Linked DNA regions of Homo sapiens: regions 1 and 3 are each linked to region 2. Evidence: fine-mapped expression QTL. A gene starts in region 2. Each other region holds a variant in brackets. All regions are shown on one strand. Distances are from middle to middle.

Region 1 (10,624 bases), 64 kb after region 2:
ACGACCCTGCCCTGTGTTTCCCAATTCCTGCTCTAGTGCTGGCTCCTTCTTCCAAGGACTGAACATTGTAGATTTCTGATACACACGAAGTTGTTTTCAGAGGATGTCCATTCATTTGACTCCTAAGAAACCCAGTTCTCTTAAGCACAATTCAATGGCTTGCGTCTCTAAAGTTCACTGATCACCCATCGCTCTTGCTCTTTATTTGTAAAGAACAAAGGGACCAGGGATGTAATTAACTCACCCACATTTCCCATTGTCCTTAAGTCTTTTGTGCAAGCATTGATTGTTGTTTTTATTGTTGAAAGCAGAATTGTTCTCCTGGCAACACACATCCAGAAAGAGAGCCCAGTGAGGGACTCAGCAGGTGATGCTGTTGAAGTTTGACCTTACCGTTTGGAAGAATAAAAGAAAAAGCCAAAAAAAGCAATAATTGAGCAGAGGGTCGTTATGAATTGGTTACTATTCTATACTATTAAATGCTTTGGGAGAAAAGACATTTGGTTATTTTTAAGTGCATTTAGGAATTCAGAATATCAGCCAGCTGAGCTCCCAAGTACAGGTCCTCAGGGGATTCAGTTTAATGAATCTTTAAGAGCAGCCTGTTGTTAACATATTACAATTAGCACAGGTAAATGGAGGATTCGAATGTGCTTCTGGCAAATAATCTGTTCTCACTTTTATATCTTAGTCATTACTTACTCATACATTGATGTTTACTCTGAGGTTGTTTTGCTGGGAAGAAAGGATACACTTAGCAAAGCAAGATGATATGGCAGAAGAGAGCTTGAGATTTGGGATCTAAATATGACCGGGTGGAATATTGGCTCTGTTCATTAGTACAGTCGTGTGGTCCTCAGGAAATTGCTGAAATCCTCTGAATCTGTTTCCTCCTCTATAAAATGGGGATTATAAAACCTGTTTCAGTGGATTGTTCAGCTGATTCAACCAAATCATGTTAAAAGGGCTGCTGCATAGCTCAATAAACTTTAGCTTCTTTCCCTCAAAGTTAAGCTTTTCTTCCCTGTTCATCTAAAAAATCAAGCAATGAATTACTGAAACCTTTTCATAGGGAAGAGAAGGCAATGTTTTGGGTTCTTTACCCACATTTTGCCCATACATTCGACTTTATCCAAAGAACGCTTTGAGTTGCTGCAACCACCTGCACGCTGAGAAGACAAAGGTGAGGAGTAGGGTTAAAAGCAGGTTCATGTAGGTTCAACTGGAAAACCAGCTGCCACGGAAGCCTCAGGCATATCTAAATTTGTTCCTCCCTCTTTTCCTTCCTAACTCCTTAAGGTTTGTGGGCGGGATCATGTAGGATGACGACAGCCAAAGGGAACCATCCAAGGCTCTGAGGTGGAGGGAGCTCTGCTTGTTTAAGGAACTGGAGCTCGGTGGGTGAGACAAATGGTGGCAGGAGATGATGCCTGAGAAGTTGGCAGGGACCAGATTAGGTGGGGAATTGCAAGCTGGCATTATAAAGTTTGGATTTTAAGTGTAATGGAAAGCCACTGGAAGTCTTTAAACAGGGAAGTGACATGATTTATTATTTTAAATGTGCGCTCTGGCTTCTGTGGGAAGATTGGATTGTAGGGGCTAAGTATGGAAGCAGAGAGATAAGTTAGAAGGTTGTTGCAGTGGTTTATTGAGTTTGGGTGCTTTAGGGTGCTGGAGAGAAATACTGTGAAGGTAAAACTGACAGGCAGTCAAAGGTGAGGCTTAAATGAAATAACATAAATGAAGTGCCAAGTGTGTAGTAGATAATTAACAACACAAGTTCCCTCTCTTCGTGCTACAACTATATCAACAAAGTGATGTTTTTCTCTGGAATTGGATATAGGGAGATGATAAATTAATAACCACATTTTCTCAGCTATGGATTTGTTCTTTGGAGGTGGGCTGACTGGGAGATGGAGGTCAGCTTTTGCAGATCACAGCCTGCCAACTGGGAACACTTGCGAAAGGAAGAAATAATAGAAGCAGGAAGCAGGAAAGGAGGGAAGAGCAGTATGGAAAAAAGACTGGGCCAGGTGCGGTGGCTCACGCCTGTAATCCCAGCACTTTGGGAGGCTGAGGTGGGCAGATCATGAGGTCAAGAGTGCAAGACCGGCCTGACCAACATGGTGAAACCCCATCTCTACTAAGAAAACAAAAATTAGCTGGGCGTAGTGGTGGGCGCCTGTAATCCCAGCTACTTGGGAGGCTGAGGCAGGAGAATCACTTGAACCCGGGAGGCCGAGGTTGGAGTGAGCCAAGATTGGGCCACTGCACTCCAGCCTCGGTGACAGTGCGAGACTCCATCTCAAAGAAAAAAAAAAAAGACTGGAAGGAGCAATTTGGGGACCTTATCTCCCTCACAAGGCATGTGACAGTGGTATGGCTTGGCTGCTTCAGTGCCCTAGTACTCAAACCCCTAAAGGGAGAATGCAGATGGACAGGTGCAGAGGTCATGGGGAGCACTTTTGGGCTTCAACCCCACGGCAGTATCTTGGGGTGAGTGCTTACGACTCTTGAAGCCCCAGTGGGTGTGTGTTACAGTGTGCTCTTTCTGCTTTGCCATCTGCAGGTGGCTTGTGTTAATCAGCTCAAGTAGACCCTCTGCCTTATCGCAAGAGCAGAGGGCTTTCTGTATCCTGAGTTCTTGCCCAGTGTACCAGAAAAATTTGATCACAGGTGGGCTTGGTGCAAGGTTCTGTTGAGTGGTGGAGGTGGCGCTCAGCAAGATGGATGGGGGGCCAGAAGAGGGATGGAGTGGGAAGGTGGTCTTCCCCTGGAGTCAGGCTACCCAGTGGCAGACTGTCCTCTGATGGCCCCTGGCTGAACTCCCCTCAGAGTCCGCATTGTTCCACCATCGCTGGTCTGCCAGTGTCTGCTGGTGTGGTCCTCTGCTCCTCCGATGTCTAGCCGCTTGTGTGTGTGCCTGCTAAGGTCTCGGGTTTATATGGGCACAGGATGGGGGGCATGGCTGGCCAGAGTGGTCTTGGAAAATGCAACATTTGGGCACAAAAACAAGAGTGCCTGTTCTCTCTTAGGTCCATGGGCACAGGCCCAAGGGTGGAGCCCCTGCCAGGGACCCCACTCTTCTCTACCCAGGGCTTCCCTGCCCTACTTCCGCATCACTGAGAAATGTGAGGACATTGGTGTGTGTGGAAGGTGCTGGCATAACAGCTGGAGTTGCATCCTTCAAGTGACAATATAGGTATATCAGGGCAGTCTGCTATGATTAGAACTGAAAAGAATCTGGAGGCCATATCATCTGAATTCCTCATTTTAGGAAACTGATCTCTAGAGAGAAAAAGTGACTTGGGCAAAGCCACAGAGATAATGGCAGAGGCAGGGCTGGTAGCAAACTAGAGTGGGAAGAGATTGAGTTTTAAAGTAAGAGACTGGGGGTGCAGTCATTTATTCAGCAAACATGTACCAAGCTCCTGTTCCATGTCAGACCCAAGTCTAGGCACCGGGAACACAGTCAAATAAAACAGACAAGGCTCCTGCCCCCATGGAGCTTACATTCTCATTCCTCCTCTTACAGACTCTTCTGAGACTACCATGGCAGTCCACCTAGTTTGCCTTCATGAATCGATTTCCTCTTCTCTAAAAAGGGAGTAGCAATACCTCTTTAATTTTAATTAATTCATTTATTCATTCTACAAATATTGATCAAGTATATATGATGTGCCAGGCACAATGCTAGGTGCTGGTGACCCAAAAGTAAGCAAGGTAGAACCAGCCCCTGCTTTCAGATATGACGAACTAGAGGCAAGATGGTTGTCATCTTAAATGTCCATCAAAATCACCTGAAGCCCTTAGGAGGTCACTGCTGCCCTGGCCCCATGCCTGGAGCTGTCGATTCCACTGCTCTGGGGTGGGGCTAGGCATCACTATTTTCACAAACCTTCCAGGTGGTTCTTATAGGGGTGGGGTGAAGAAGTGCTGGAGAGGCAAAGATAAAGGGTCATGCGGGTGGTGGTTTGGCAGGTGGAGGGTGCAGCCTATCAGACCTGGGTTCTTGGGGCTGGGAAATGCTTCCCAGAGGAAGTGACTCATCAGGTGAGACCATGAGTAGGACTAGTCCAGGAACAAGAAGTGGGAGCAGTGTCTGGGAAGGCCAGAGCCCCCAGAGGTTGCTCTGAGGGTAAAAGGGGTAACAGAGGTGGACCATAGTCCGTGGTCAGAGACAAGAACTATGCCATTGTTCCTTTGCCTGTTTCTCTCTCTTTGTTCTTTCCAGCCCCACTCCCTTCCTGTTATGTTCTTTATCCTACAATACACCATACTGACAGCACAACAGCTGATTCTCCAGCTCCTAATAATTATCTGAAAGAGCTTCCTCCTGTCATCCATCTCATGTCCACTGCTTCTCTGCAAGGCAGGAGCCAGCCTCCGGCTCCCTTCCCACAGCTTCCAGCTCAATTGCCTCCCTACAGCAGAGGGAAATGCTCTCTTTGCTGCATGATTTGATCAGTGTATTCCCCCCAACCCTCCACCTTCAGGTGCACAAAGACAAAATGCATTCTCTTCAGATATTTGATTTGTTTTGCAAGTAAGTGCTCAGTACCCACCAGCTGATAACCACATTGGATGTGTTTGACAAATAGTCCTTGAGTGTTACCATAAATCTATAACTTGATGAGAGATTCTTATTGTCAAAATATAATTAGATCAAAGTTTGGTATTTCCCAAGGGTGTAAGGAAGTTCATGGATGTGTACCATATTCAGTAAGATATACATCTGTGCATGATGTCTGCCATTGTCACTCTAAAACAAGAGGGAAATCTGACATGCTTTTACGTCCTAAAGAAGGAAGATATTCAGTGACTTGTTTAAGTCTCTTCTGAAATAACCCTCAGCAGAGCCTGAGTTTATTCTCAAGGCGAGGGGGTGGGGGAAACGGGGTGCACAAACAGTTTTGATCCCATGCCGATGTCTGCTGACTTACGCAGAGAATACAACAAGCTTCAGGGTTAAGGAAAGGATAACAGGGAGGTTGAGAAAGAAAAATCAGTCTGCTGGAAATGTCATTGTCTTAAGCGAGGGTGGAGGAGAGTTGGAGAGTCCTTCTCTTCTATGTATAATCTTCTCAATGCATTGTAAAATGTTTTAAAGGGATTATATTATTTCTCCTGCCTGTGAGGTTACCCCAACTTGTCTCCTCCTCTCTCCCCATTTTTCCCATTTTTGGCTCTTTTGACATGTAAGTGAGACCAGAAACAAAGGCTGTCATCTCATCCAGG[C/T]AGCCATTTGTCCACACTTACCAGTAAACTGAATTTGCCAAGAACTCCCACTCTGCAGTCTCTGGGAGAGGCAAGATGATAAGCTTGTGCCTCTGATAAAGCCTGCAGCCTGGGATGATCTGGGCTGAGTGGGGAGACTGAATCCATGGGAAACTGCATCCCTTGAGGAGACTCGTCTGGACTTCTCTCTGCCGGGAGGCACTGGCGTTGTAAGAAATGAAGGAATGGGGTCAGGGGTGGGGAGCATCCACAACTCAGATGTTTAAAGAGCCAGAGCTGCAAACAAAATCTGGCTAGGAACAGTTTTCTTCGACTGACCTCACTAGATGCCTCTTTCCAAAATTCCAAGCCCTCTTGGGGCACACGGGGTCTTTCTGGAAGTTGGTGATGTCGTGGAAAGGTCACTAGGTTTGGATCCAAACTGCCTAGTATGAGTTTACCATGAGCTTCAATAATCTGATCAAGTTCCAACATTCCTCTGAGCTTCAGTTGCTTCTGTGAGATGGAAAACACCATCCCTTCTCAGGACTGTCAGGGACTTTAAATGAGCTGACATAGTTAATACAAATAAACCACCAGCACAGTGACTGGGACACAGAAGGACCTCAGCAAACTGAGTTTTTGCTCCTTTTTCCTTTGCTAAATGAAATCAAACCATTGCAAACCCCATTAGTGTATAAGAGACATTCATTTGTCCATCCCTGAAGGTGTAAGCACAATATAAAAAGGCTTCCCAAACTACTCAGGCGGAGCAGGATAGAGAGATGTATGTTTTGCTGAGCTGATCATAAATCTGAATGAAGTAATTATGTAAAGTATTCAAGAGCAATTCAGTAAGAAGATGCCTCATCTGCCTTGATGGGCTTTTCAATTACTCATTTTTAGTACTGCATTATACTGTTCTCTGGCAATAATTATTAAACATTTCAACTGTACTGCTATATAAAACTTAAAAGGCTGATTTATTTCCTAGGCATTAGACTACATTGAATAAAATCCCCCAATTACATGGTTCTATTTTTTAAAACCTGTTTATCAGTGATTTTCTAGTATTGAGTCAAAACTGACAGCAGGTCCTCATGTGAAAAATAAGGGTACAGTGTGTTAAATCCAGCGGTTATTAGCTTTGGGGTCATGGAGGATATTAATACAGACCCCCTACTTGCTAGTCCCAGTTTCTGAATCTGTAAAATGGGGATAATTCCCACTTCACTGGATTATTGTTTGAAATAATGGATACAAAGTGTTAGCAAGAATGTAGAGTCTGTGCCAGGTTTGGTGGCTCACACCTGTAATCTCAGCTCTTTGGGAGGCTGAGGCAGGAGGATTGCTTGAACCCAGGAGTTTGAGACCAACCTGGGCAACATAGACCTCATCTCTACAAAATATAAAAAATAAAAAATATTACCTCGGCATGGTGGCGTGTGCCTGTGGTCCTAGCTACTAGATAGGATTGCTTGAGTCCAGGAGTTCAAGGTTATAGTGAGCTATGATCTTGTCACTTCACTCTAGCCGGGGCACAGAGTGAGACCCTGTCTCAAAAATAAATAAAAATAAAATTTTAAAAAAGAATATAGGGTATTTACTTATTAAACACTAGATATTCTGAGATTCACTGGCATTTACATATAGCCAGTGAGAATCTTCCCACTTATTCAGTGTATATGCATCAATCACCTACTAGGCTCTAGGCACTCAAGATGCCACCAGGGCCCATTCTCTGATTGTCACTTCAATGACTCAAAGTCATGGTCATCAAGCATCTAGCAGCTCCAGGTCCCCTTCTGGGCTCTGTACACAGGACATCTTTCATCATGTGTAGCCATTTTCCACATAAGGATGTGTACTCACAGAGAGTTGGGTGACTTTACTCAAGGTCATTCAGTAGCTAAGGCAGAAATCAGACCTATGTCTGCTGGCTCCAAAGTCCACATCTTCTCTCCCCACTACCCCATGCTACCTCTCAGGATTCCAGGAGCACATTTCACCTGGTTTGAAGGATAATTCCTCCTCCTCTTCCTGGTTTTTCTAGAGGAGATAGCTCTTTTCTTATTGAGGATTACCCACCCCTGAAAAATTACCACTTTCCCGAAGTCTGTCTCTACTTTTCTCAGCATCTTCCAATTCTCACCTGGAAGATGAGGCTTTCTATTCTAACTGAGGACTACACCATGATTCAGGCAGTGACCCCTACACACACACACACACACACAAGCATGTGTGTGCCCAGTTCTACTGGAGCCTGTCCATTGTACTTGAGGCTCCCAAGCCAAACTGGATTTAGGTGCAGGCCAGCTGGGCTGGTACCCTGGATACCAGTCTGTAAAGAGAACTAAAATGCTGCTGGAAATGTAATACAGTGGAGAAAATGGTCTTTACCAGAATTGTTGAGAGCAAGCGGGACACGAGAATGATAATAATAATATTTATCAATGCACAGTGATTATAATATACACTGATAGTTTTGTTGATAAACTTTCTCCTTAGTTCAGCCAAAACCGGGCTCTTGTCACATGATCAGGAAAAGATTAGGCTTGTGGACACAGAATGGTGAGGAAAACAGAATTTATTGGGTGAAAAGGAAAAAGGAAAAGCAACTCTCAGCAAAGTGAGAGAGTCCTCCTATCAGGTTTCCCGCCTCACACGTTGAATCCCAGGTCACCACATAGCAACGGGAGAGGCCAGGCTCCTCCCCACTGAACTTCCTGAGGCTCCACCCCATTCTCCCAGTGCTCAGGTGGGCGTTATTCAGAAAGAATCAGTCAGGAAAGGGTGGCTTCATCCAGGAAGTGTAGTCAGGTTTTTCAGCCTTCAGGCTGTTTTAGGTTTAAATATGGAGTTTTGCTGGGGACCCTTGGCTGCCTCCTGTCTCCACTGGTTTTGTGCCAGAAGCTTCTCTAACAACTTTGTATATGAATTCATATAAACACTTCTGGCCCATTGAGGTAGATGCTATTATCAGTCCCCATTTTACAGATAAGGAGAATCAGTCCAGAAAAGTTAAGGAACTTGCCAGAGTCACACCAGTAATAAATAGGCTGCTGGACTCTCCTAGGACTTTGTATTGTCTCCTGGTAGGGGGAAAACCCCCAAGAGCACTTAAGTGACAAGAGCTGGTATCTCAGTGACCTTCCAGGCCTCTTAGTTGCTGGGTGAGGTATGCAAGTTTAGGGCAGCAGTTGAACTACTCAGGTTAATAGAGTGAGCAGTGCTGAGCTGGCAGTCTGCCTGCCCTCCTCCCACGCAGCACTCAGCCTATCCTCCAAATGAATGTTGGGCAAATATTTAGAGAATATCGTTTTGAAAGGGGGCCAGGTTATTAGCCTGCCCAGGGCGCCTACGCATCTTGGCCCAGCCTTGCTCCCAAGCCTGGCCTGCTGTCTGTGCTCCTAATATGTGAAACAACTCACATAGCATGGAGGATTAATCTGCTTTTGGGGGAGAAATGCAATCTGGTGTTTCTCAGGACTAAACTTCTGTGGATTGGATGCCACATGCCCGGTGCCAGAGGGTCCGCCAATGGTGCTCGTGGCCACGTCACCTCCCCCACAATCCCACGTGCTTCTCAAGTCTGGAAAGCACAGGGTACACTCCCGGGAAGAGAAAATAAAGCAAGTGAGATTTTAAAAGATGAATAAGATGGAGGTAAGAATCCGTTTGAAGAGATGCTAATGCAAAAAGGGATGCTAGTTCAGAGACATGCAAATCAAAACTACAACGAGGCACCACCTAACAGCAGTCAGAATGGCTGTTGTTAAAAAGACAAAAAATAACAGATGCTAGCAAGGCTGCGGAGAAAAGGGAACACTTGTACACTGTAGGTGGGAATGTAAGTTAGTTTGTCCACTGTGGAAAGCAGTTTGGAGATTTCTCCAAGAACTAAAAACAGAACTAGGATTTGTTCCAGCAATCCCATTACTGGGTATATATGCAAAGGAAAATAAATTGTTCTACAAAAAAGACATAAGCACTCATATGTTCATTACAGTACTATTCACAATAGCAACGACATGGCATCAACTTAGGTGTTTGTCAGTGGTGAACTGGATAAAGAAAATGTGGTACATATATACCATGGAATACTACATAGCTATAAATAATAAAATCTATCCTTTGCAGCAATATGGATGCAGCTGGAGGCCATCATCCGAAGCAAATTAACTCAGGAACAGAAAACCAATACCACATGTTCTCACTTGTAAGTGGGAGCAAAACACTGGATTCATATGGACATAAAGATGGAAATGATAGACACCAGGGGCTACCGGAGCAGGAAGAGATTAATGGGGAAAGGTCTGAAAGACTACCTTTTGTGTACTGTGCTCACTACCTGGGTGATGGGATCATTCGTAACAAACCTGTACATGTACACCCTGAAGTTGAAATTATATATTTTTAAAAAGGATGCTATAACTTTTGTGAAAGTTAGGCTGGAAGATGGGGGTATTTGTAGGGAAAAGGGACAGGATTTAAGCCTAAATCTTTACAGTTTAGAAGAGAGGCCACTGACAAAAAGTACACTGAATAACGCAGTCAATGCAGCCATTCAAATTATGTTTCTGTTAAGTTCAGAAAAACCTGGAAAAATATTGAGGCTCCTAGGACAAATGGAAAAAGAAACAAGACACATTATATAAACAAAATCAGTACCGCTATTAACAAATTTTAAAGAATACATGGAGAAAAGGCTAGAAGGAAACAAACCAAAATTATTCAAACAGTGGAGGATTTTTTTTTTTCCTTTACTTTTCTGTCCTGGTTAACGTTTCTATGATAAACTTACTTTTTAAATCAATAAGGGCAAAATCTGAATTTTAAAAAATCTATATTGAAAGCCCTTTCATAAAAGACAAAAGCAACTGTCTTTCCTTCCATGGCTTTCAGATTGAAAAAATACACGTAGGAAACTAGTAAGAGGTGATTCAATGACTGGGATTATTTTCTTTGGATTCTCTCTCAGGTTTTACTGAAGTAGTTAGAAAGCCCTTCCTGGGCAGATTCAGCAATAATAAACTACATTAATTTCATTTCCAGAAAAAACTTAAGATGTCAAATTTAGCTAAGGGGGATCATAATAGCCCCAAATTATAAACAACAAAATGTTCAACGTGCTGAGGTTTGTTAGGTAAAATGTGGACCAAATAAGATGAGGTATTATGCTGCCATTAAAAATTTTATTGGGATTGTACATTAAATGGAAAAGAAATATGTTCGTGATATGGTGTGAAATGACGAGTTATAACATGGGAAGCATACTTTAATCCTGTCTTTTAGAATTACATTTTTATATGTATATGTATGCACAATCTAAAATGATATACACCAAAATATTAATAACTATCTTGGGGTGGTGGAATGATCAGGAACGTTTGTTTCATATTTTTTG
Region 2 (10,624 bases):
CAATTTAACTCTATATATAAGAGAAACAAAAACATAAAGTTTCTAGACTCTTTTTCTGAATTAATAAAAGTAACAATAATAACTGGGTGGGGTTATTGTGACCTCATTGCAGTTTACAAATTATCTCAGTTACCCATTTGTTTCTCAAAATCCCACAAGGTAGGCAAGATGGGTATTACTATGTCCAATTTTGCACATAATCCGTGTAGATAGGTCCTGTGACTTTCCAAGACTGCACAGCTTCACATGGTGAAAACAGAAGAGCCAGCCTGGAACCCATGTACTTCAAGTCTGAATTACGGTCTAGGACGACGGTTCCTTAAACTTCAGTATGAGTTTTTCTTCAAAGTACAGATTTAGTAGGTCTGGGATGAGGTTTCGGAATCTGCCTTTGAAGCAAACATCTGATGCTCATGTTTCAATGACCATACTCAGAAAAACACTAATCTAGAAAATCCTTTTCCCCCTTCTCTCTTAAAGCGGGGAGAAAAAAGAGGGAGATCTTACCTCCTATGAATCAAAGGACTTTTCTCGCCTTGGAGAACTGGAGCCCCCAGCTCTTCTCTTCTGCGACCTACCCACACACACTGATAAAGTTAATTATCTGCCCTGGCTAAATGACTTTCCTTAGCAACACCCTAGCAACTGACATCAGCTCTGCCTTAGGCTACAAAAACTGGAAGGAGATTTCTTGAAGTCCAGTATATTTTACAAAAGAACAAAACATCTGAACAGGAAATTAAGGGGAAAGTAAACTGGATTCATTGCTAGGAGATGAGAAATAGACACATGAAATAGTTCATGACAATCCACTGGACCACAGTAGTCAAAATGGGAAACTTTTTCTCCTCCTCAGTTCTACTGAAGTCCACAGGAGGGGAGACTGCAGGATCTCATTCTATGGAGGAAAATTTAATCAGGCAGGAGGAGGGAGGGCATTCCAGGCCATGAGAAAGCTGTAAGCAAAGGTGCTGAGGCAATACTGAAGTGGAGGACACGGGGAGCCCAGCTGGGTGGTGCTGGGAGCTCAGATTGGGATCTATGACCAGGCATGACCAGATGGACACAGTGAGACCAGATTGTGGATGGCCTTAGAGGCCAAGTCTTAAAATTTGGGCAGAGTCAGAAGGCACTGAGGGTAGGCTTGTTAAAAAGTTTTTATTCAGAGAAAAAATATTTATGGAACCCCTACCAGGGGCCGGGCACTACGATGTGCACGGAAAATACAGTGGTAAGCCCCATAGACATCCCCTACCCTTCTGGAGCTTAGAATTTAGAATGGAGACAAATACTGAACAAATGTAAAATTTTAAACATCAAACTTATAAATCAATGGGTCATTATAAATCTTAATATTAAAAGAAGCCAGGTGTGGTGGCTCATGCCTGTAGTCCCAACACTTTGGGAGGCTGAGGCAGGAAGATTGCTTGAGCCCAAGAGTTTGAGACCAACCTGAGCAACATAGGAAGACCCTGCCTCAAGAAGAAAGAAGAAAGAGGAAAGGAGAAAGGAGAAAGAAGAAGGAGGAGGAGGAGAGGGAGGAGGAAGAAGGAAGAAGAAGGAGGAGGAGGAGGAGGAGATTAAAAGAAAAGGTACTCATGAGCTTCAGCAGAGTTTTGGGGGCTGGATCTATTCTAGGAAATCAGAAAGGCCTTCTTTGGGGAGGCAGTTTTGCACTGAGATCTGAAGAGTACATAGGAGTTGGCCAATGGAGAGTGGTGGCTAGGAGAGACCAAAGAGCATGATAGGATTCCAGGCAGAGAGAACAGCACAGGCAAAGCCCATGAGAGAAGAGCTGCATGGCTGGAGAAGCAGATCAAGCAGAGCCTTGGAGGCCTGGCTGAAGATTCTGTCTTTATTCTGAGAGCCCTGAAAAACCACCAAGAAAAAATGTTAACCTCAGGATTGACATTCAAATCTGCATTTTTAAAAAGATCACTTGGGCTTCAGTGCAGAAGACAGATGGAAGGAGAGCACAAGTAGACAAGGGCAACCCAGTTAGGAAGATGAGAGAGGATGTCAACACAGACAGGGGTAGTGGTGGAGAAGAGCGTGAAACTTGATGTGGTGATGGATCGGATGAGTGGAGAAGACAGCAGAGGTCTGAGTGACAGCCAAGCTGGTTTAGGAAAACCTAGCTCATGTAGTGGGATTGGAGCTTGGTGAGCTGGTTAGAGCCTGCCGTCATAGCCCAGATGATAGGGCGAACACTGTGTACTGGAAAGTACCTCATTTGGTGTTGGGGATGCCTGTTTTAAATCCTGGCTCTTTCCCTTAATAGCCATGGAACATTACCTCAGCAGGTAATTTCATAGGCTCCTAATCTGAACAATGGGAGTGCGGAGGTGAATTGGGACTGCCTACTTCCCATAGTTTTCCTGTCAATATCCAATAAAAAGTTAAATATTGCATTCCTGCCTACTTCATGCCCACCCATCTCCAACTTAGATTTGAACCTTTTGTAGATGAATAGAGGTTCAAGAGCACAGATTTGAGCTTTCAGACATAAAATAAGCTTTGTGAAGACAGGGGTCACAATTTATTCATTTCTGTAGTTTCCTGCCCTCTGAGATAAGATCAGGTACACTTTCAAGAACCACTTATTTTAGTTTGTAGCATACATCACAATTATAATTTTAAAAGATTCATATAATTATGTATTTAATATTTGCCTTTGCCACAGGCCTGTAAAATCCTCAAAGGCAAGTAACATATCTGTGTTTTGTATCCAAGCACTGAGCACGTGGAGGGTCTTTGTCATGAATGAATGGATGGATAGAAGGATGCATGGATGGATGGATGGATGAATTTTTGTTCCGTCTTCTACCTACCGGTCAGCACAGAGTCTAGCTCCAAATCTACACTTAATGAAAGTTTGCTGGATGAATGGGACCGTGCAACTTGGAGTGCAGCATGAGCTCTGAGCCAGTCGAGTGAAGATGCAGACAATTCCCTCAGCACTCAGACATGGATCTGAGCCTCACCTCAAAAAGGAGGGCCGATCAGCTGGATCAGGTGCTGCTAGGGTCAAGAAGGGCTAGGGATGAGAGAAGAGCATAATTGGCTTCAGCAAGGGGTTACTTTCAGGTGACCTCTGAGAGAAGGCGTCCAGTTAATAGTGGCAGTGGGAATTCCAGCACAAGCACTAAGGAGTAAGTGGGCAGGCAGGGAGGAATGGAGATCTCCCATGCACCTAGCGCCCTGGGCCTGTTTGTAGCATTATGAAAGAGAAAACCCTGACCTGGAAAGCAAAGGAGATTGCTTGCTAATTGTAGGCACTTGAGGTGTGTCGAAGGCCCTGGGCAAAGAGAAGACGAGGAAACCAAAGCTTCTGAGGGCACCTGGGGAGGGATGTTTGTGTGCACTGAGAGGCAGGGGGCTTATGGTATCCCCAAGCGGGTGAGGGAGCAGGCGCCACTAGAGACCAACTAGAGTGTTTTATATGGGTCATATCATTTACTTCTAGCATATCACCCCACTACCTCTAAGAAGGATGTACTGGCACCCACCCCCACTTCCTTGTTCTCCAGAGCAGGAAACAAGCTTGGAGAGTGCGATAACTAGCCCAAGCTTCACAATGGGTGAGTGGCAGGACTGAGGTTTGATTCGGGTCTCTTCCCAGAGAGACACTGGGAGAGATTCTTGCCCCAGGTCTTTTCCCTTCAGGCCCTCAGGCTCAGCACCTCTCTGAACATCTGTCCCTGGGGAGTGAGAATCTGAACTAAAATGTAAGCCAAGAAAACACAGGCTCTTCATTGAATCTTTGGAAACTCCTTTCCTGGGCTGTAGGAGGACCTTCCTGAGCCTTAGGCACTTTTGCCTTTGCTGGCTCTTTCCTCCAAGTCAAGCATATTTTATGACTGTGGAGGTATAAATACAAATATATTAACATTATATAGTAAAACATTTTGTTTGACATAAATTTTTTCTTCTGATTTTTACAGAAAACATTTTCATAGATCTCCAAAAGTATCGTGGGCCCTAAGCGCTGTAGCTAAGTCGTTTCTCCTTTCTCAGCCTCCAGTCTGACATGTTCCACTATGGCCTTGGGAAGAGCAATGGGCCCGGAGTCGCCGCATCTAACCCTGCTGTAACTGGTCGCAAGTCACAGTTTGCTCATCTATAAAGTGAGCGAAAGTAATGTAATCTTTATTGGGAGTAGGGAACATGAAGGCGAGTCGATACAGTAAGTAAGCCGCCAAGCATATTGCTAGGCACAGAGCAGGTGTGCAACAAAAGTTATTTCTCAGGCTTTCCCTCCTCTGAGCGCCGTCCTCCAGAGGGTCCGGAGTGTAGCTGGGGGTTGGAGCAGCAGCCTCCTAGGCGATGGGACAGAGCCCACAGGGTCCGGTATGCCACGGTTTCTTCGTCAGACCCTGGGAATCCAACGTCGCAAAATAAACACGGCCGCGCCGCTAATCGCCAGTTCGGAGGAAACAAAACAGCGCTGCGCTGGGGGATCTGGGCAAAATCAGCCCTCCCTCCTCCCGCTCCTTCGCCGCGGCCCTCCCCTCCTCGCGCTGCTCTCGTTCGCTTGGCTCAGCTCAGCTCAGCTCAGCGCAGCTCCGCGGCCGCCAAGCCGAGGCGGGCACGGTCTCCGAGTCGCGGACGCCAGCTCCGAGCTCCCTCTCTCCGCCGCGCCTCCGCCAGGTCGCGCCTTCGTCGGGACCACTTCGGGCAGGAGTCGCGTGGCGAAGGCCTGCGGCCGCGGCACAAAGTTGGGGGCCGCGAAGATGAGGCTGTCCCCGGCGCCCCTGAAGCTGAGCCGGACTCCGGCACTGCTGGCCCTGGCGCTGCCCCTGGCCGCGGCGCTGGCCTTCTCCGACGAGACCCTGGACAAAGTGCCCAAGTCAGAGGGCTACTGCAGCCGTATCCTGCGCGCCCAGGGCACGCGGCGCGAGGGCTACACCGAGTTCAGCCTCCGCGTGGAGGGCGACCCCGACTTCTACAAGCCGGGAACCAGCTACCGCGGTAAGTGGCCGCCCGGCGTGGCATTAGGAGAGCGGGACCCGGTCCCCGGAGGGCGCCGACCTCGCGGTGCCGGAGGAGGGCGCGCGGTCTCCGGGCGCGTGGCGCGGGTGCAGCCCGGCAAGGGCCCTTCTGTCCTGGCTGCCCTCGGCCCTTGCAGTCGCGAGCTCGGCGCGGATCATAATCCAGCGTCCCGGGCCGTCGCGGGGGCCGCAGCCAGGAGAGGCACCCCGCGTTTCCGACGCGCGGTTCCCAGGCGGAGGATGTAACTGAGCCACACGTCACGCCGGCCTGACTGCAAGGGAGGCTCGCTTCTCCCCCGGCCGTCTGCAGGAGGGAAGTAAAACTGCCTTTCTCCAAATCGGTCTGGAGGGGACCCAGGCTTCTCTTGGTCGGGTCCCGGGCAAGGCAGCCACTCCAGCTTTCCCCGCTCAGTCCCTGAAGGAGAGGGTACCCGATTCTCAAAGACTGGCCCTGGGCGGGACAGCCACTCCGGCTTCCCTGGATAGGTCCCTTCAGGAGAAGGGACTTTGGCTTCTCCCTAACCGGTCCCGGGGTGCGGGAAGGAGGGGCAGGGACAGCCTAAAGCTCCTCGAAAGGGTCCTTGGAAAGAACCCCAAATTATTCTCTCGTGGTCCCAGACGAGATAGAGTATCTTGGGTTTCCAGAACAGGTTCCCAGTGGGGACAGGGTCCTCAAAGAGCTTGGGGTAAGCTCCGAGCTGCAAGGGGAATTGGATGAAGATGGAAAGAGAAGCCCCGATGCCCGAGGCCTGCTCCCTGGAGGCCGGGGAACCTTGGCTCCGGCAGCTCGGAGTCTCCACGTCCCAGGGATGTCGCGCCTACGCCGCTCGGCTGAGAGTGGGGTTTCGGGAGCTCAGGGAGGAGGTGTCCAAGCAGGTGAGAGCCTCCTAGGCGGGACAGGCAGTTCGACCAGCACCGATCTGAAGACGCCTGACTCTGTCCCCACGCCCGCCACCTCGCTCCTCAGCAGGGTCATCTCCCCAGACATCGTTTCCCCGTGCAGCAGCAGCCGCTCTCCGGGTGGGGGACAGGTAACCAGGAAGGGAAGCGAGCCTGTCTGGCCTCACCTTAGCTCCCGCCAGGGAGCGTGTCCTCTCACCCTCGCCCCTTCATAAGTCAGCTCTGGTGCTAAGCAGGGATGAGCGGGTCACTGGGGCACCTGGTGGGGCAAATGGGCTCCCAGCTGCTGTACTTTCCTCCTCGCCTTCCCAGTTCCCCAGAGAGCCTTGGACGGAAGCGGTGGGAGCAACACAGGAGAAAGTCTGGGGCAGCGTCAGCGGGCGCCAGGGTCACGCCGGAGACCAAAGCCAGGGGCCACCCTTCTTGGAGCGCTTTTCCCCCTTTCCCGGGTTTGTGTCCCCGACTTTCTCCACCCGGAGCTACCCAAAGCCGGCTCCTTGGTGCCCTTGGCACCTTGGCGTGCTGAGCACTTTGCGAGGAACAGTCTGACCCCGGCGCGCAGCTCCGCGGGATCCTGGGTACTCCACGAAGAAAGATTCTGGGCGGAGAACACCCCGCCCAGCCCGGGAGGGAGCGCGCGGCTTGGCACCGCGGCTAGAGCGAGCCGCGCCGACGGGCGGCGACTGCCACTCGGTGCAGCCGGGAGGCGGCCGATCCTCCCTGTGGACCGCAGGGAAGCGGGTATGACTTCAGTGGCCTATTCGGCCCTCCCCAAAACTGAGGACCTGAGTTCACAGGGGAAACTGTCCCCGCTCCACGTAGCAGAGAAAGAAGTGGCTCTGGAGTCCAACAGACTTGGGTTTACTCGCTGTGTGACCTTGTGCAAGTCATTTAATTTCTCTGCACCTATTTCCTAGCTGGAAAAAAAAAAAAGCTGTTTATCCACCCTCTCTTGGTGGTAGGGAGTAAATGAGTTTACAAAGGTGAGTGTGCCTGAGCTAAAAGAGATTCCTAATAAGCCTAACAGTTGAATGTGAGGCCTTTATTGGTTTACTAATGGAGGTAGGTTCTTGATCAGATTTTTGTTTTTGAAGAGTGTTGTGCGTTTGAAAGCAGGTTTCCTCAGCTCTCCTCCAGTCCCATTCATCTACCAGTGGTTATTTGGGTCCTCATGAATTAATTGAATGAATGAATGAGGTATTTTTTCATATCAGGAGCCTTGCCTAAGACTGTTGCTAATGCAAGCCCAGGAAGATTTTTTCAGTGACTTAGACTAGTCTGAGGTTCAGGCCAAGTGTACCCAGCGTCTCTTTTCACACTAATCCTCCGTGTTTTAGTTGAGCATTGGCAGCTGGTGGCCCTAGCACTGGGAAGGAGATACAGCTGGTATTCACGGGGCCAAAGAGGTTTCAGAACTACCTAAACGTCCAGGGCCAGCAGGTGGGGAACTGGGACTGGATAGGGAGTGTCCTGGACTTTCACCCTACAGGCTACTCCTGCCTAAACAGCCATCTGGACTTTGACACCCCAACTCAGGCTATAGATTGGGCAATCATCTTTTCTCCCTTCTTATGGCTAAAAGACCTTGGAAGAGATCTTGCAGGAACCATGCTGAGGTTTTCCAAGTAAATATCCTGCAATTAGCAAACCTGATTCTGCCACTCAAAGTCCGAAAGAAAAGGTACTGGCCTAGTTTGTGACATTTTCTGTTGGCTCCTTCTTTCTTAGAATAATTATGTTAAAAGTAACTCAAACACATTCTGCTCATTGTCCTGACTTAAGGCTGTGAAGCTGGCATTCCCCTGGTGTTCTATTTGCTTTTTAATTTTTTCATGAATTAGGATTCCTCACAATCCTTGGAATCAATGACTTGTTTTCCTGCCTCAAATCTTTGTCCACAGTATTCCAGTTCATCCCCAAGCAGCTTCTGTTCTTTGTGCCTGCTGTCTAAGTACAGTCTTTAGGTACTCTAGACCGGAATAAAATGGTCACTATTAAAAAAGACTGAAACATGGAGTTTCTTCCCCAAAACCTGAATCCAGTTGAGATCATTATTTTGTCTTTTCCAAGTTGTTAGTATTATATTGATTTCCTTTTCTTTCCCACCACTTCTCTCTACTCTCCCTCCCTCTTCCCACAGTCCCCCCTCCCTCCAACGGCAATAATTGTGCTTTAGAAAGCTCTGAAAGGCCTGCTCTGTTTCTGGCCAGGGCCTCCTTTGAAAAGGAGATTACAGTGATTAAAAATAACAAGTTGAGGATCCTCAAGGGGCTTCCCTTATACAGGAGGACAATTCGCAGGACCAGCCTTTCCCAGATCACAATTTCAAGCCAAACAGAAGAAAATCCACTGAAATATTCAAGAATTGATTGAAAATAAAAGAGGCTCTTTTGTCTTACTGGAGGTCTGTTTATTAGGAAAATAAAGTCAGACTCTGGCTAATGAGAGTGGCTTTTCCTAGATGTATTTTAAAGAGACATTTCAAGGAACTTGATGGGAAAAGAATGTCCAGTAGAGGTTTCAAAAGCTGGTCCAACTTCAAGCATAATTGAGGGGTTTATCCTAAACTGGGAGGTTTGGAGACCTCCAAAGCTGCATGGTTTTTCCTTTGTCCCACACTGAGACACACACTGACCACAGGGGTGGACACCTCAGCCTGGTGGAAAGCGCACAGGCTTTGATGTTGGGTGGGTTGGTTTCAGGTCCTCCTTGGTCACATATTCACTGTGTGATCTCAGGAAGCCACTTCACCTCTCTGAGCCAATTTCTCCATCTGTAAAATGAGGGTGTTTTGATTTTTTCCCAGCATTCCTGTGAGAATTAGAAATAATTCATGTCAAAAGAAATTGTCACACAGTGGTTGCTAAAAAAATATGTTATGAGATGATTATTTTGGAAATAGAAAAATACTTAGCAGCAAAGCCCTGGATAAGATATTGTGTTAAGTTCTTCCGACTCATCTCACTTATTCCTTACAGTACTTTGAGGAAGTTTCTGATCGTTACTGTTTTATGGATGAGAAGACTAAACCTCAGAGAAGTTTATTCCTTATCCATGGTCACACAGCTAATAATCAGCAGAATCAGGATACAGTCTCAGGTCTGTCTGACTCCTAAATCTGTGCTCTTAACCAGTCTTATGTGCTGACTCAATGAAATTAGTTGGGAATAGAATGAAATTCACTCAGCTACCCTCAGCCTTCTGGATGGTGAGCCTTCCTTCAAGGAAAACAGAACAACAAATCAAGATAGTAACTGACATCTCTCAGGAGAATTACTTTATATTACTACAAAGTAATATAAAGTGATAAATCCTTATTCACATTTGCTGTTTTCTCTTATTGGCTTCAGTGTTGCATTTCCCCATAAACTAGAGGATTAATTTAGAAACATGAAGAACCTTGTCAGCCTTTGGCCAATTCCTTTTGTTTGTGGGGAAACAAAAACAAATTGGATAGGAAAAAAAAAACCCAGAAAGAAAAAAAAAAAAAGAAAAAACAGATTTGACTGTTGTTTTGTTTTTACATACAGATGTTATATGACCATGCCTGTAAAATTATATGTTTGGAAAGGACATATTTAGGCTCTAAGAAATTTACACAAGATGAGGTCTTTTAAATAAACTATTTCCTGGATGGTGGAGTTTTTAAAAACTTAAGTGCTGCTGATGATATTATAATTAAGCCACCCCTCCTACCTCTCTTCCCTTTTTTGCACCATTCCCTGCTTTTTTGTTATGTAACTATTTCTAACCATTACTTAAGTATTTAGTTCAAACTGATAATAAAAATTAGAAAATGCAAACATAGCTAATGCTTAATGGTTGTGGAGATTGTTTATTGCTCTGAGTTTTAGGAAATGAAAGAAATAAAAACATACAAAAAAGCATATCAAAATGGAATTTTTCAAGGTTTAAAACTTGAGTACTCCCCCATACACAGATAAGCTGTTTCATTACAGCTGACTCTTTCAGTTGCATCAAGAAGCTATAATCACTGATACGTTTACCACTATGGGCTGGTATATCAGGAGCTTTTCACTCTCACACTGTCCATTTGCTTGTTATACAGACTGTCACATATATATAGGTCAATATCAATTTCTGTTGTGAGGTGGGGGGACTCTTACCATGTTATATTAGTCATAGTACAGGCTAAGCTCATGTTACTAACAGAATCCAAAACACAGTGTTTTAAACAAGAGGTAAATGGGAGATCCAGCATGATGGGAGGCTTTGCTCCATAAGGCCATCCAGGAACCAGGCTCCTTCTACCTTGTTCCCTGACATCTTCTTGCACTCTGCTGTGTAGTTGGTGGCTACTTAGCCGTGTGTAGCTATGAAGTACTTGAAATGTGGCTATTCTGAATGGAGATGTGCTGTAAGTATAAAATACACAATGACTGTTGAAAATTTAGTATACAAAGAGTAAACTCATTAATTGTGTATTATTACATATTAAAATTATAATTGTATAAAGTAAAATACACTAGTTAAAACTAATTTTGCCTATTTTCACTTATGTTAATGGATACCTGGTAACAAAATTAATTTCACCCAGCTTGAGCTTATTTCTACTAAACAGCACTGTTTTAAGTTGCTGTTCTCCTCAGCACCGTTACAGCCGAGGAGAACCTCTGCACACCTGTATTCAGTCAGCATGCAGTGGACTGGGGGGAGAGGAAGTAGAGGACTTCAGTTTTCTTTTAATAATGTGACCCAGAAACTGCACCCAG
Region 3 (9,052 bases), 31 kb before region 2:
CACCCTCAAAGAAACTCCATATTTTTTAGTAATCAATCCCTTCCTAAACACCCCCATGCACCTAACCCTCGGCAATGAGTAATCTACTTTCTGTCCCCATAGATTTACCTATTCTGAACATTTCACGTAAATGAAATCTTAAAATATGTGGCCTTTTGTAATGGGCTCTTTCGCTAGGCACACTGTTTTCAAGGTTCATCCATGTTGTGGCATGTTTCAGTACTTCATTCCTTTTTATGGCCAAATAATATTCCAGTGTATGGCTATACCGCACTTGGTTTATCCATTCATCAGTTGATAGACACTTGGGTTGTTTCTTCCTTTTGACTGTTATGAATAATGCTGCTATGAACAATCATGAGCAAGTTTTTGCACAAACATATGTTTTTATTTCTCTTGTGTATACATATGCACCTAGGAGTGGAATTGCTGGGTCAAATTTTCTTGGTGTTTTAACTTAAAAACAAACCTTATGCCAAATTAAACTAAATGACAGCACTTTGTAAATAATAAATCACCTATAAAAATAAGGTTTCATTTTAACTATCTTGTAGAATATTTAATCTCCTAATTTATTCCAGTAATGTTGAATCCATTTCTACTGTGGACTTTGCACTGTGCTATGTGTTGGGAGTAAAGATTCAAAGAGGACTGAGACATGGATCCTAAACTGGAGGGGATTACTGTCTATACAAATAACTAACATACATTGGATCCTTACTCTAAGCCAAGCATGATACTAAATGTTTTATATGTATCAAATCCGTCACTAGTAATACTACCCTATGAGGTAGATACTATTATCATCCTTATTTTACAGAGGACTTAAGTAACCATCCCAAAGTCACACAGCTGGTAAGTGGCAGAGAACTGTCACACTTCATTGCTCTCCCAGGCCAGGCTGCCTCTCTAGCAACAGTATAACACACAAGAGTTAACAACGTGTCATCTGGAGTTAGATATCCTGAGTTTGAGTGCTACCTCCCCCACTTACCATGTGACCTTGGGCAAATGAATCACACTTCCTACGCTTCACATGCCTAATCTATAAAGAGAGGTTAATCCAAGAACCTACTTCATAGTGTTGACATAAGGATTAAAAGACATAAACATATATTAGTTGCTTGACATGTAGTTAGTGCTCAATAAATATTAGTTGTTGTTATTATCCATAAAAACTCTATAAGCAAATCATTACAAAGGCATGTGATACATTTTAAGGGCTGCCAAATGTCGCAATTTATCTCTGCTGGGAAGGAAAAAAAAAAAGGAAAAAAGGAAAACAAAACAAAACAAAAAAAAACCTCAGGCCAAACTGCAGAAAAGCGTTTGCCTCCTTTTACACGAATTCCATCCATTGACTTTAACAACTGAAGTCTTAAAAGCTGGATTCTGCTTATCTCTTTCGCTTCCATTTCTAGTGCTGTTGGGGAGCCTAATGCAGGGTGGTGATTTGTATTCTGCAAGTGTCTCTTGTCTCACCAAGAAAGGGGCCCATCTGTCTGGTCTTTGGGTGGGTTTGGAACATGACACCCAGGGGATGGGGGTGGCAGCAGAGGAATCAACCCAGGCACCCACAGAGGTGCCAACCAGGCAAGATCCATCCCTCTGCAGGCTCCTGTAAGGAGGGGAAAAGACAATATGATTATTCAAGGGAAGGTCTCATAGAGATGTGTGCTGCATTTAAACACAAATGCATTCTGTCCTCAATAATTTGGTGGAGTTGGCATAGCATTGGGGTCAGCCTGACACGGTATTGAAGAGTCCCAGGGTGCAATGTGACTTGTCACACTAAGTACACTTGTCTCCCACGGCAACAAGTTACTGGGCAGCAGGAGACAGCAGGGCTGGGAAAAGCATTCAGGGGAAGGGTCAACAGGGAGCCCTTCTTTGCACATTTATCCGGCCCCAGATTTGGCTGATGGTTTCAGAATGTGCTAAGTGGTCATCAGCATTCTCGGCTGTTCTAGGGGATGCAGTTAGTCGGGATTGGCTTCCTGGTACTTATTAAAGAAAAATCAGACATCTAGGGAACCAGGCCATGGAGAAGGCTAAGTCCAAAATAAGTATGAGCTTATGGAGACACACATATGAACACACCCCAGGACGACTCTCCTTAAGGATCTTTCAAACTCACATGTTAGATCCTAAGTCAATATTGATTCCCTTTCTCCCTGCTGTCCTGGAAGAACTCTGAGATACCTAAATGTATTATAGCTACTTGCTTACTTATATCTGTTTCTGCCCACTGACTTGTGATTTGGAGTGAACAGGGACTGTGTGTTATTCTTTTAGTGGTCCCAAGACCGTGGTACACGCTGAAAAAAAAAATGTGACTGAATAGAATTTTGGGAGTATATACAACCTTTTGCCCTGGAATTCCATTTAATTATTAGACAAAGTCTATGCAGACGGCTTTACTATTCCTACTTTAACTGGTGTGGAAACTGAGGTTCACAGACATGAAGCAACCTGCCCAAGGTCATGTGGTTGGTGGAGCTGAAATTGAATTTCACAATAAACGTCTGATGGGTGATTAATATACAAAAATCAATTAACCTATTATCACATTAAGACACTTACTAGGATGACTGAAAGAAAATGTCTGGAACTTCCAGAAAGTTCAATATTAATTGCCTTCAGGCCCATGGCACTGAGCTAAATGCCATGAAAGGTAATCCATGCAGATGGCCTGGCTCTCTATTGGATTTTTAAAAATAAAAACCTAGGCCAGGCAGGGTGGCTCATGCCCGTAATCCCAGCACTTTGGGAGGCAGATGCAGGAGAATCACTTAAGCCCAGGAGTTCAAGACCAGCCTGGGCAACATGGTGAAACCCCATCTCTACTAAAAATACAAAAGCTAGCCGGGTGTAGGGGCACAAGCCTGTAATCCCAGCTACTCGGGAGGCTAAGATAGGAGCAATCACCTGAGCCTGTGAGTTGGAGGCTGCAGTAAGCCAAGATAGCGCCACTGCACAATGTGAGTGAGACCTGGCCTCAAAAAAAAAATAATAAAAATAAAAAAGTAAAAACCATAAGTAAAGTATAATTATAGTTAAGAGGATGATTAGTGCCACAGTGAACTTGAATCAATTTGA[A/G]TATGGACCAGATGAGTGAGAGCTCTCTGAGAACAAGAATTGGTTTTTTTGTTTTGTTTTGTTTTTGTTTTTTAATCACTGTTGTCCTAGAGCCCTGCACAATGCTGGTGACCAACAAATGCTACTGAGATGGATAACGTATAAAGGTATAAAGGCTATGTAACCACTGGATCTGGATATAAAATGTCAATCAGTAGGATTAGATGAACAGGTTCTTTCTAGCTGACTTTCCCACCTGTGTGCCAGACCTCCTCTGCAAGATTCATAGGGTCTTCGTTTCATTGGCATATCCCTGGGGTTAGTAGCTTTGCCATAGCCATATAATAGGTGGTCCAGGTTGTGTTGTATGACCTCAGGAGTAGAGGGATGAGGGCATAGTTCGCCACAGCATTAAGACCACCTCTTCCCCTCTACCCTGGAAGTTGGCTGGAGGTGTGGAGAAATCAATGGACGGGTGAGAAGAAGATAGGGATAGAGGCCAAAGTTTTGTTCACAGAAGCCTGGGGGGCACCTCAGAGTCCAAGGAACAGCAATGGGAGGTTGATGCTTAGCACCAGAAGAGGGGGCTGCAGCTGGTGCAGCTGCTGCTGCAGGTGACATTGTTTGTGGGTACAAGATGGGAGCAGAACACTCTGTAGGGGAGACTAGAGCCCAGGCTAAGCGGAGGAGGACTGGTGCAGGGTGGGAGTTGGCCCAGGAAGAGCACGTACCTCAACAAAGGTTTGCCATGTGCTTAGGGGTGTGGACTGGAGAGAGTATGCTGGGGAAGAAGGGCGTGTATCATGGGAATATGGATAAGAATAAGCTCCAGGATTTCAGTCTACAGAGGAAAACAGACACAGACATGACCAACAGTAATTCTGCATGACAAGTGGGAAAAATAAAGATGGAATGAAGTAATATAATAATTTAAAAGAAGAAGCAGCTTGTGAAAGCTAGTAGGTACCAAGAGCCAGAGAGTTTTGGATTCAGATCCTAACTTACAAGGTGTGTGAGCTAGCACAAGTCATGTAGTTTCATCTAAGCCTTAGTTGCCTTGCCTATAAAACGTGTATAACAGCTTCCTCATAAGCGTTTGTAAAGATTAAAAGGAGATATATGTTAAGTGTTTAGCCCATGGCCTGGCATAATAACACTCACTGAAAATTAGTTGCTATTGCAACTACTACTATTTCAACTTCTATTTGCCAGGCACTGTGCTAAAGGCTTTTGTCTATGCTAGTTAATCTTTACATACACTCTGCTAGTCAGTTATTTTTATCCCATCTTTAATCAATGAGAAAATGGAACCCCTGCGTGTTTAAATAATACAGGTAGTATATAGCAGCCCTAGACTCACCTCGAGGCATGACAAGTTTCAGACACTCCACTCTAGTCACCATCCTGCTGCTTTATTACTACAAATATAACACTTTAAAATATATTCATATTTATACTACAAATATTTTTATAGTAATAAAATAGCAGGGTGGTGACTAGAGTGGAGTGTCTGAAACCGGTCAGTTTCCAATACCTATGGAAATTGCCTAGGTTAGTGCTTAGATAATCATCATAATAATAGCAACAATGAAGATATTATAATCATAATATATTTATAATTATTATATTATAGCTATTATTAAGCGTGTGTAATAATAATTACAGATTACTATGATTATTTTGTACCTAATTATTAGGCACTAAACTAGGTACTTTTCCTACATTGGCTCATTTAATCCTTGTAATAACCCTATGAATCAGAAACTATGATTTTCTCCATTTTGCAGATAAGATTAAGTGACTTGTCCAAATTGTCTAACTATCAAGTGGTGGAGTTGTACTTTGAAGTGGGTAGGGGAACTTTACTCCAGACTCTGTGTATTTTCTGACACTCCAGCCTGCTTAGTTTTAGTGGAAGCGTTTTTCCATCTCTCTAATTTGTCCTTTTTTCTCTTTTCTCTCTCCTTTTTCTCCTTCCTTTTCATCCTTGTCTCAAGGGAATTTCTCGTTTTCTTTCTTTTTTTTTTTTATATTATACTTTAAGTTCTAGGATACATGTGCACAACGTGCAGGTTTGTTACACATGTATACATGTGCCATGTTGGCGTGCTGCACCCATTAACTCGTCATTTACATTAGGTATATCTCCTAATGCTATCTCTCCCCCCTTCACCCTCCCCCCACCCCACGACAGGCCCCAGTGTGTGATGTTCCCCTTCCTGTATCCATGTGTTCTCATCGTTCAATTCCCACCTATGAGTGAGAACATGCAGTGTTTGGATTTTTTGTCCTTCTGATAGTTTGCTGAGAATGGTGGTTTCCAGCTTCATCCATGTCCCTACAAAGGACATAAACTCATCCTTTTTATGGCTGCATAGTATTCCATGGTGTATATGTGCAACATTTTCTTAATCCAGTCTATCATTGATGGGCATTTGGGTTGGTTCCAAGTCTCTGCTATTGTGAATAGGCCGTAATAAACATTTGTGTGCATGTGTCTTTATAGCAGCATGATTTTAATCCTTTGGGTATATACCCAGTAATGGGATGGCTGGGTCAAATGGTATTTCTAGTTCTAGATCCTTGAGGAATCGCCACACTGTCTTCCACAATGGTTGAACTAGTTTACAGTCCCACCAACAGTGTAAAAGTGTTCCTATTTCTCCACATACTCTCCAGCACCTCTTGTTTCCTGACTTTTTAATGATTGCCATTCTAACTGGTGTGAGATGGTATCTCATTGTGGTTTTGATTTGCATTTCTGTGATGGCCAGTGATGATGAGCATTTTTTCATGTGTCTTTTGGCTGGATAAATGTCTTCTTTTGAGAAGTGTCTGTTCATATCCTTTGCCCACTTTTTGATGGGGTTGTTTGTTTTTTTCTTGTAAATTTGTTTGAGTTCTTTGTAGATTCTGGATATTAGCCCTTTGTCAGATGAGTAGATTGCAAAAATTTTCTCCCGTTCTGTAGGTTGCCTGTTCACTCTGATGGTAGTTTCTTTTGCTGTGCAGAAGCTCTTTAGTTTAATTAGATCCCATTTGTCAATTTTGGCTTCTGTTTCCATTGCTTTTGGTGTTTTAGACACGAAGTCCTTGCCCATGCCTATGTCTTGAATGGAATTGCCTAGGTTTTCTTCTAGGGTTTTTATGGTTTTAGGTCTAACATGTAAGTCTTTAATCCATCTTGAATTAATTTTTGTATGAGGTGCAAGGAAGGGATCCAGTTTCGGCTTTCTACCTATGGCTAGCCAGTTTTCCCAGCACCATTTATTAAATAGGAAATCCTTTCCCCACTTCCTGTTTTTGTCAGGTTTGTCAAAGGTCAGATGGTTGTACATGTGTGGTATTATTTCTGAGGGCTCTGTTCTGTTCCATTGGTCCATAGCTCTGTTTTGGTACCAGTACCATGCTGTTTTGGTTACCGTAGCCTTGTAGTATAGTTTGAAGTCAGGTACTGTAATGCCTCCAGCTTTGTTCTTTTGGCTTAGGATTGACTTGGCAATGCGAGCTCTTTTTTGGTTCCATATGAACTTTAAAGTAGTTTTTTCCAATTCCGTGAAGAAAGTCATTGGTAGCTTGATGGGGATGGCATTGAATCTATAAATTGCTTTGGGCATTATGGCCATTTTCACGATATTGATTCTTCCTATACATGAGCATGGAATGTTCTTCTATTTGTTTGTATCCTCTTTTATTTCATTGAGCAGTGATTTGTAGTTCTCCTTGAAGAGGTCCTTCACATCCCTCGTAAGTTGGATTCCTAGGTATTTTATTTTCTTTGAAGCAATTGTGAATGGGAGTTCACTCATGATTTGACTCTCTGTTTGTCTGTTATTGGTGTATAAGAATGCTTGTGATTTTTGCACATTGATTTTGTATCCTGAGACTTTGCTGAAGTTGCTTATCAGCTTAAGGAGATTTTGAGCTGAGACGACGGGGTTTTCTAAATATACAATCATGTCATCTGCAAACAGGAACAATTTGACTTCCTCTTTTCCTAATTGAATACCTTTATTTCTTTCTCCTGCCTGAATGCCCTGGCCAGAATTTCCAACACTATGTTGAATAGGAGTGGTGAGAGAGGGCATCCTTGTCTTGCACCAGTTTTCAAAGGGAATGCTTCCAGTTTTTGCCCATTCAGTATGATACTGGCTGTGGGTTTGTCATAAGTAGCTCTTATTATTTTGAGATACATCCCATCAATACCTAATTTATTGAGAGTTTTTGGCATGAAGTACTGTTGAATTTTTTCGAAGGCCTTTTCTGCATCTATTGAGATAATCATGTGTTTTTTGTCTTTGGTTCTGTTTATATGCTGGATTATGTTTATTGATTTGTGTATGTTGAACCAGCCTTGCATCCCAGGGATGAAGCCCACTTGATCATGGTGGATAAGCTTTTTGATGTGCTGCTGGATTCAGTTTGCCAGTATTTTATTGAGGATTTTTGCATCGATGTTCATCAGGGATATTGGTCTAAAATTCTCTTTTTTGCTGTGTCTCTGCCAGACTTTGGTATCAGGATGATGCTGGCCTCATAAAATGAGTTAGAGAGGATTCCCTCTTTTTCTGTTGATTGGAATAGTTTCAGAAGGAATGGTACCAGCTCCTCCTTGTATGTCTGGTGGAATTTGGCTGTGAATCCCTCTGGTCCTGGACTTTTTTTGGTTGGTAGACTATTAATTATTGCCTCAATTTCAGATCCTGTTATTGGTCTATTCAGGGATTCAACTTCCTTCTGGTTTAGTCTTGGGAGGGTGTATGTGTCCAGGAATTTATCCATTTCTTCTAGATTTTCTAGTTTATTTGCATAGAGGTGTTTATATTATTCTCTGATGGCAGTTTGTATTTCTGTGGGATTGGTGGTGATATCCCCTTTATCATTTTTTATTGCATCTATTTGATTCTTCTCTCTTTTCTTCTTTATTAGTCTTGCTAGCAGTCTATCAATTTTGTTGATCTTTTCAAAAAACCAGCTCCTGGATTCATTGGTTTTTTGAAGGGTTTTTTGTGTCTCTGTCTCCTTCAGTTCTGCTCTGATCTTTGTTATTTCTTGCCTTCTGCTAGCTTTTGAATGTGTTTGCTCTTACTTCTCTAGTTCTTTTAATTGTGATGTTAGGGTGTCAATTTTAGATCTTTCCTGCTTTCTCTTGTGGGCATTTAGTGCTATAAATTTCCCTCTACACACTGCTTTGAATTTGTCCCAGAGATTCTGGTATGTTGTATATTTGTTCTCATTAGTTTCTTTGTTTTTTTTTTTTTTTTTTTTTTTTTTCTGAGGCAAAGTCTTGCTCTGTTGCCCAGGATGGAGTGCAGTGGCGCCATCTCGGCTCACTGCAAGCTCCGCCTCCCGGGTTCCCGCCATTCTCCTGCCTCAGCCTCCCGAGTAGCTGGGACTATAGGCGCCCGCCATCACGCCCGGCTCATTTTTTGTATTTTTAGTAGAGATAGGGTTTCACCGTGTTAGCCAGGATGGTCTCGATCTTCTGACCTCGTGATCCACCCACCTTGGCCTCCCAAAGTACTGGGATTACAGGCATGAGCCACCACGCCCAGCAGTTCTCATTAGTTTCAAAGAACACCTTTATTTCTGCCTTCATTTTGTTAGGTACCCAGTAGTCATTCAGGAGCAGGTTGTTCAGTTTCCATGTAGTTGAGTGGTTTTGAGTGAGTTTCTTAATCCTGAGTTCTAGTTTGATTGCACTATGGTCTGAGAGACAGTTTGTTATAATTTCTATTCTTCTACATTTGCTGAGGAGTGCTTTACTTCCAACTATGGTCAATTTTGAAACAAGTGCAATGTGGTGCTGAGAAGAATGTATATTCTGTTGATTTGGGGTGGAGAGTTCTGTAGATGTCTATTAGGTCCGCTTAGTGCAGAGCTGAGTTCAATTCCTGGATATCCTTGTTAACTTTCTGTCTCGTTGATCTGTCTAATGTTGACAGTGGGCTGTTAAAGTCTCCCATTATTATTG

Alleles and levels. Alleles are on the strand shown, and positions count from the first base shown. SD is a standard deviation of normalised expression in the study named. Not every link is listed here.
For the expression in atrial appendage of the gene that starts at base 4,552 in region 2, allele C in region 1 goes with a higher level than allele T (moderate effect, 0.60 SD a copy in GTEx).

What was found. PIP is the estimated chance that this variant, and not a neighbour inherited with it, causes the effect.
Region 1: its variant is fine-mapped to the expression of SPON1 in atrial appendage (GTEx, PIP 0.96).
Region 3: its variant is fine-mapped to the expression of SPON1 in blood mononuclear cells (TOPMed, PIP above 0.99).

Annotation. Positions count from the first base shown.
Region 1 is chr11:14,021,695-14,032,318 of GRCh38, forward strand. All of the region lies in intron 2 of SPON1 (spondin 1), which reads left to right. Among named protein-coding and RNA genes, the nearest start is that of SPON1, 64 kb to the left of the region's middle. RefSeq lists an enhancer at 1-498. The variant C/T (reference allele first, on the strand shown) is at 5,239.
Region 2 is chr11:13,958,172-13,968,795 of GRCh38, forward strand. SPON1 (spondin 1) reads left to right here and starts at 4,552. Exons shown (of 16, transcript NM_006108.4): 1 at 4,552-4,971. The coding sequence starts at 4,734. LOC124902637 (a long non-coding RNA gene) reads left to right here and starts at 4,986. Exons shown (of 2, transcript XR_007062602.1): 1 at 4,986-6,874; 2 at 8,870-9,698. RefSeq lists an enhancer at 7,837-8,355.
Region 3 is chr11:13,927,939-13,936,990 of GRCh38, forward strand. No RefSeq gene overlaps it. Among named protein-coding and RNA genes, the nearest start is that of LINC02683, 7.6 kb to the left of the region's middle. The variant A/G (reference allele first, on the strand shown) is at 3,100.